Linked DNA regions of Homo sapiens. Changing the gene in region 2 together with the main gene of any one other region gives a genetic interaction. Each region holds a gene or a part of one and is shown on either strand. Other genes may lie near its edges. The genes, in order: MPHOSPH6 and GNL2.

Region 1 (3,108 bases), on a different chromosome or scaffold from region 2:
AGAACTCGTTACTTCCCAGAGTTGGGAGGTGCATCATTCTCATACTCACAGTGAAAAAAAAAAAAAAGGCCAGATTAACTTCAAAGTCCTATCTTTTCTCATAACTCACCAGAGAACTGAGGTCACAGAGCAATAAAACCTTCCTTACAGAGATTTGAGGAGAGAGGAGACATGTACCTCATTCACTTCCTGGGAGCGAAATTAAATCAGTAGTTCTCAGAAGTCCTAGGTACTTATCTGCAGACAGAAAGACAGACACACATACACACACTTAATTCTATGTGCTTCTTTCTGTACTTAGCATTTAGAATAGAGTTCAGACTAGGAGATGGTACCATTGGTCAGTGGTAAATTCTGTTGGGTTATACCGTAAGAAACTAAAGGTTATTTTTGACCTGTAAAAGGCAATTTCTTATGGTTCAACCTAATACATCACTATATTCTGATCAATGGCTGTTTTTTAAAGTTATTATTTGGAAAAAAGTTATATTACTGAATTAGACTAAAATTGTTATTTGAAAGTACAAGAAAATATAAAAAGTATGTGAAAGTAGATTTTTATTACAGAGCAAATTTTTCTATCAATTCAATGCTTTAAATAAAACAACATAATACCATAAACTGACAATGACCTGGGAGCATGTAAATACTTAAGGCTGGAGAGGCATTTTTATTCTTGATAAATTTATATAATAAATTCTTATGACATTTGATTCCAAATTGTATGTACGAATTGGCTTGACATAATAAATATAAACATAAGGGCAATTTAAACATTGGCAGTAGTTTATGTAAGTCAATTCAAGGTCAGTGACTGGAGAACTATATTAAGAGAAACCTGAGGTAAAAAAAATCTTTAGGAAGCAGCCCTGTAACAATGTACATTTGTAGATCAGGGGCTAAAAATCCACTCTGAATGAATACCAAGAAGCAAAGGATGTACAACATCCATCACACATCTGTTTCAAAAACAGCATGTTTCTAAAATGATAATCTCTTTACAAGTAAACGTTACAGTATTAATAACTATAGAGACACCATTGGGATGAGCTCCAGATGCCCTGCTGACTTCCACCAAGCACCCCTGGGCCATCGCTTAAGGCATCCATCTTAATCCTGGGGCTTTAAGAACATCTTCTTTGCTTTAATTGGTGTTATGTCTCCATTTTCATCTTCTTCATAATTGGCATGGTCTCTCTTTCTGGCAAACTTTTTCCCAATTGTCCCCACCAAGGTCTCATATCTGTCAAGAGGACAGGCAGCACACGTTTAATTTCAAATAAAAAGGTAGGGATCAAGCCTTGTCAAGAATATCAGACCAAATATGCAATAAAAAAGATTACGAAAAAGAAAACTATCATTAAAAGAAACCATCTGATTTAACAATTTATGAACTTCTCTAAGAGTGATTAAATTCCTTGCCATTTTGGTGTTTGCATTACCCTAAATAAATAGAGATGTACATTTTAAAATACACATTTCCAGCAGCTCTGGAAATGGGCCCTCAACTGGCAGCCTGAGACAGGTCTGTGGCCCCCGTAGGCCATTAAGAGAAGGCCGATCACAGTCATCGTCCTACTGGGGGACTCCCTTGAAAGCTGCCGTGCACTGTGGGGTAAGAGGAGCATTCCTGGGAGAGCCAATGAATGCTAGGTCCAGATTAGAAGGCTGCTGCGCAGCACGGTTACCTTCTAGCCATCTCTTCATCTGACACATCAAGCTCTACTGTTTCATCTTCAACTTCTTCTGCTTTGTGCTTAGCATTCATCTGAAGCATCAATTTCTGAAAAATACACCAGTGCTGACCTTCAGGCTAGAAAACGCTTGTGAAAGGAACTGATGTCAAACTTACCTGAAGGCAGAGAAACTGAAGTCAAATAATCTAGAGAACTAGTCAAAATTGATAAGGGACTCTCTGTAATACTTGATACCACAATGGTGTAAGAGAAGTAAGCTCTGAGTCAAAAAAATAGTAAGGCAAAGCCCCACTGAATTATACTTAGGGTGAATTTAAAGTGTATTTAAGATCATAAATCTTAGTATTAGTTACTCATATTTAAAGCAGGCATACTGCTGACACATTCCGGTGAGTGGGGGAAGAAATAATAAACTTTCAGATTTTCCCTGAACTTCCCCCACCCATCTTTAAGCCATATGGAAGAAACACTAGTCGTCAGTAATAATTTTAAATGCATCTCTTGGTGGTGGTGGTGGTGAGTGGAGGAGGTGGGAGAAGTGGAAGGCTGGCCCTGTTTAATGGAGGGAATCTGCACCTCAGCCTTACCCTCCTAAACTTTAGAGTGGATAATGCATCCCATGTAACATCCATGCACCACAGGGTCTCTCCTCCAACTCTTTCACATAAACCTTTTTGTGATAATTATCCTCTGACCTTTTTTTTTTTAAATGTGTAATCTCTTCTTTTTAGCAAGAGGAGAAGGAATAAAAGATGAGAAATCAGTCTTAACTAGTTTTTCTAAGGCTTAAAAGAGTGATAATAGTTTAAAACCTTTTCCTAGGGGGAGTGTATTCAGTGTTTCAGAATCCAGTAATTAGGGCCATTTTCTAACACCCGTCCCTGCCCCCCATCAATTTCTGCGGGCAGTGGCACCTCTCCTTTCCCATTGCAGCAGACATACTTTGGAATGCTCGCCTATCCAAACCCTACTCTTTGAATACCACATCTTCATAATCCCTGCCTTTTTCTTCCCTCTTCACCCCACTGCCCAGCCCCTCTCCTTCTCAATCTGAAGCTTAATTAAAGAAAGTCAAAGCGAGACCAGCATATATTAAAAACAAACACTTCTAACATAACACCTTAATTATCACACATGCCTCCTCCCACTCCGCCAAAAAAGAAAAGGAAAACTAACCTAGAATCTTTCAATAAACTCTGGCAATTGGCTTAGTTAACTGTGGCTCCTAGAGAAGTGGTTCTTAACTGGGGATGATTTTCCCCACCAGGGAACCTGTGAAAATGTCTGGAAACATTTTTGGTTGTCACAGCTGGGTAGGAGGGTGGGGTGTGTGTGTGCTACTGATATTTAGTTGGTAGAGAACAGAGGACAGGGATGTGGTTCGTCATTCTCTTAGGAAAGCCACCACCAC
Region 2 (3,826 bases):
ACAAGGATGAAGCATCAATGTGACCGCATCTTTTTCATCCTTAATTATTCCCCAAAGATAAGTTCTTACGGAGCAAAGCATGATATCAAAAGGTATGCATGCTTTTTGATAGGCAGCTGCCACATTGCTCTTGAGAAAGGGTTTAATTTCATTTCCCTTGGGCAGTGCTAGAAAGCTCTCATTCTCGTCCATCTCATGTCTCTTAAATGAAGTGGAGGTTTTGCTGTCTTAGTGAAGAGGCATTGTCCTTTGACTGCATCAGTGTTATTACCTCATTGCTATTGTCAGCCCATCTTCAAGCATTGGGCCACCTAGAGATAAAATGTCAAGCCATTTGAGGCCAAGCAAAAAGAGGCAGTGAGTTCATTTATTTGTTCTTAGAATTATTTGAACTTTCGTTGGCTTTGTATTCTGCCGATTTGAATTTTTCCTTCCGCAACAGGTATAGTAGGTAATGCAGTAAAGACAAAACTATTTTTGTTTACCTTGGGTAAATGTCCTAGAGACTAGTAAATAAACAGATTCTAAACCTTATCAGAAAAATACTGCTGTATATGGGAGCTATGGAGTATAGGTTGTGATTCAGGTCCTGCCAATTCCATTTTGTAATTCTCTGTGACATACTGCCTAATTCAGTCATGCTTTTTTTTAGTTTAATGTTTTATTGTGGTAAAATATATGTAACAAAAAATGTGGCCAGACGCAGTGGCTCACACCTGTAATGCTAGCACTTTGGGAGGCTGAGGCGGGCGGATCACCTGAGGTCAGTAGTTTGAGACCAGCCTGACCAACATGGTGAAACCCAGTCCCTACTAAAAATACACAAATTAGCTGGACGCAGGGGCGCACACCTGTAGTACCAGCTACTTGGGAGGCTGAGGCTGGGGAATCGCTTAAACCCGGGAGGCGGAGGTTGCAGTGAGCCAAGATCGCACCACTCATTCCAGCCTGGGCGACAGAGCGAGACTCCGTCTCAAAAAAAAAAAAAAAAAAGTACTCTTCTAACCATTTGATGTGATCTCGGCTCACTGCAATCTCTGCCTCCCGGGTTCAAGCGATTCTCCAGCCTCAGCCTCCCGAGTGGCTGGGATTACAGGTGCCCGCCACCACGTCTGGCTAATTTTTTTGTATTTTTAGTAGAGACAGGGTTTCACCATGTTGGTCAGGCTGGTCTCGAACTCCTGGCCTTATGATCCACTGCCTCAGCCTCCCAAAGTGCTGGGATTACAAGTGTGAGCCACTGTGCCCAGCTCTTCTAACCATTTTCAAGTGTACAGTTTAGTGATACTAAGTTCATTTACATTGTTGTGCAATCATTGCAGCTATCCATCTCCAGAACTTTTTCATCATCCCAAACTGAAACCCTGTACCCATTTAACACTAACGGTCCGTTTCCCCTCTCCCCCAGCCCCTGGTAACAACATTCTACTTTCTCTCTCATGAATTTGACTGGTTTAGGTGCCTAATATAAGTGGAATCATACAGTATTTGTCCTTTTGTGTCTGGCTTATTTCACTTAGCATAATGTCTTCAAGGTTCATTCGTGTTGTAGCAGGTGTCAGAATTTTCTTCTTCTTTTTTTTTTTTTTTTAATTAATTATTTTTTGAGACAGGGTCTTGCTCTGTCACCCAGGCTGGAGCAGTAGCCTGCTCATGGCTCACTGCAGCCTCAACCTCCTGGGCTCAAGGAGTTCTCCCACCCCAGTCTCCCCAGTAGCTGGGATTACAGGCATGCACCACTATGCCCAGCTAATTTTTGTATTTTTTGTGGAGATGGGGTTTTGCCATGTTGCCCAGGCTGGTCTCGAACTCCTGGGCTCAAGCAGTCTGCCCTCCTTGGCCTCCCAAAGTGCTGGAATTACAGGTGTGAGCCACTGAGCCAGCTGGAATTTCCTTCTTTTTTAAAGTTGAATGCTATCTTGTGTATATATGTGCCACATTGTGTTTATCCATTTATTTGTTGACAGACATTTGGGCACACTTTTTAAATTCAGTTTGTTTCTGGTCCATCTCCAACTGGGTTTGATACTGTTTTTTTTGGTACATTGACTTTACCCTAAAGCATCCTTTTAGTCTTGATGGTGCTTCAGTTGCTCATTTGGGGTGCTTTCTTATTTAGAAATGAAGCTCAAGAAGAGATCTATAAAAAGGGACAGTCCAAAAGAATATGGGGTGAGCTCTACAAGGTAAGACTCCTAAATTCTCTCCCATTGAGTGGTTCCTTGGGCTTTCATGATTTTGTAGAAGAAAACTAATTTTGATATATTGAAGCTCTGTTGCGCAGAGTACAGGCACCACTGCCTGTTCCATCCTCTTCCTCCTACAAAGAAACTCGGAAGGCGTACTACCATTGATCTAGGTAACTGCATTTTTTAAAGTACTTGTATAAGAGTAACAGCTATCTTTTATTATACAATCACATATTTATTACCTGTCAGTATTTTTTAAGATTTCCTGCCAAATTTATCATGCCTAGTTAAAGTCACATGCAACATTTTAAGTTATTTAGTCCACCCCTCTCCTTTTATCGATGAGGACTCCTGTCTAGAAAGGTTTAATGCTGTACCTAGCTCGACTAGCTTGTTAGTGAAGGAGGCTTTGTATATCTTGATTTCTGATCCAGTGATCTTTAACCGGCAGAGGTTTATGTCCATGCACTAATAATAACCTTCAGAAGAAAAATTTTCAAGTATAATCACGTAATTAAATAGTAACATGATAGGAAACTAGTACCGTGAAGGCAAGCTAAACTTTGTAGTTTTTTGTGAAATACACAAAACCTATAATATTACAAACTTAAAGATAATATTACAAACTTAAAGAAGTCTAAGAAGTAAATGATTTAGTTCAATAATCCATAGTAGTTAGGAAATAAGTTGAGTTTCATCTAAGCTAGTTTTTCTGTTTTAAATTCAGCAGGTTTCAAAAGCCACAGGATGAAAAACCTTTTGAATTCTGATCACTGGGCCTTGAGATTAGCCACAACGAACTCTGCCCAGAGACTGTTTTGAAGTTGTCTCTAAATATTATTATTTTATTTTTCCCAGACTCCCTTAAATGTCATCCCTCTTTTATTTGTACTGTAGCAAACCATTTTTGCCTTTCTGAATTTTCAGGTGATAGATTCATCAGATGTTGTAGTTCAAGTTCTTGATGCTAGAGATCCAATGGGTACTCGTTCCCCTCACATTGAAACTTACCTGAAGAAGGAAAAACCTTGGAAACACCTCATTTTTGTACTTAACAAATGTGACCTTGTTCCAACCTGGGCAACAGTAAGTACAACTACTAAACCAGAATAGACTATTAAGACATCTGTTAGTAAGTCAGTTGTAGGGCTTTTAGGCTAAAGTGTTGTCCGGCTGAGATTGTAGTAATGGGAGTGCTCTCATTGGAAACACGAAAGTGTGCTCATTGATAGTGGGCAGAGGCACCAGGAGACGGCTTCTGAGGCCACTGCCTGCTTCACATTATGCTCCATTAATTGCATTTAGTAACAATGAAGACATTTTTTGGAATATTGTTTTGTATTTATAAGACAGAAGAACAAAGCATTAACTGTTATACTTGGAAAAAACATTTCAAAGAATTATAGCTAACATTTTCCTTAGACAACAGTATATTTGAAACAGTTCTGTAATTCAAGCTCTGATTCTTCCACATAATGTAAATAAATGTACTGCAGTTTACCAAAATGTTTTCATCTCTCCTTCTAGAAACGGTGGGTTGCTGTCCTCTCCCAGGATTATCCAACACTTGCTTTCCATGCAAGCCTTACTAACCCGTTTGGCAAGGGAGCATTCATTCAGCTTCTGCGGCAGTTTGG

Evidence for each region.
Region 1: changes in GNL2 (region 2) and MPHOSPH6 together harm fitness more than expected from each alone (negative genetic interaction), as found in Homo sapiens cells (one large-scale study listed by BioGRID).

Annotation. Positions count from the first base shown.
Region 1 is NC_000016.10:82,147,621-82,150,728, forward strand, and holds the end of MPHOSPH6 (M-phase phosphoprotein 6), read right to left. Parts: intron 1,784-3,108; coding exon 1,689-1,783; intron 1,244-1,688; coding exon 1,111-1,243; 3' UTR 542-1,110; downstream 1-541. UniProt on the Homo sapiens protein: RNA-binding protein that associates with the RNA exosome complex. Involved in the 3'-processing of the 7S pre-RNA to the mature 5.8S rRNA and play a role in recruiting the RNA exosome complex to pre-rRNA; this function may include C1D.
Region 2 is NC_000001.11:37,582,227-37,586,052, reverse strand, and holds part of GNL2 (nucleolar GTP-binding protein 2), read left to right. Parts: intron 1-2,119; coding exon 2,120-2,186; intron 2,187-3,116; coding exon 3,117-3,275; intron 3,276-3,716; coding exon 3,717-3,826. UniProt on the Homo sapiens protein: GTPase that associates with pre-60S ribosomal subunits in the nucleolus and is required for their nuclear export and maturation.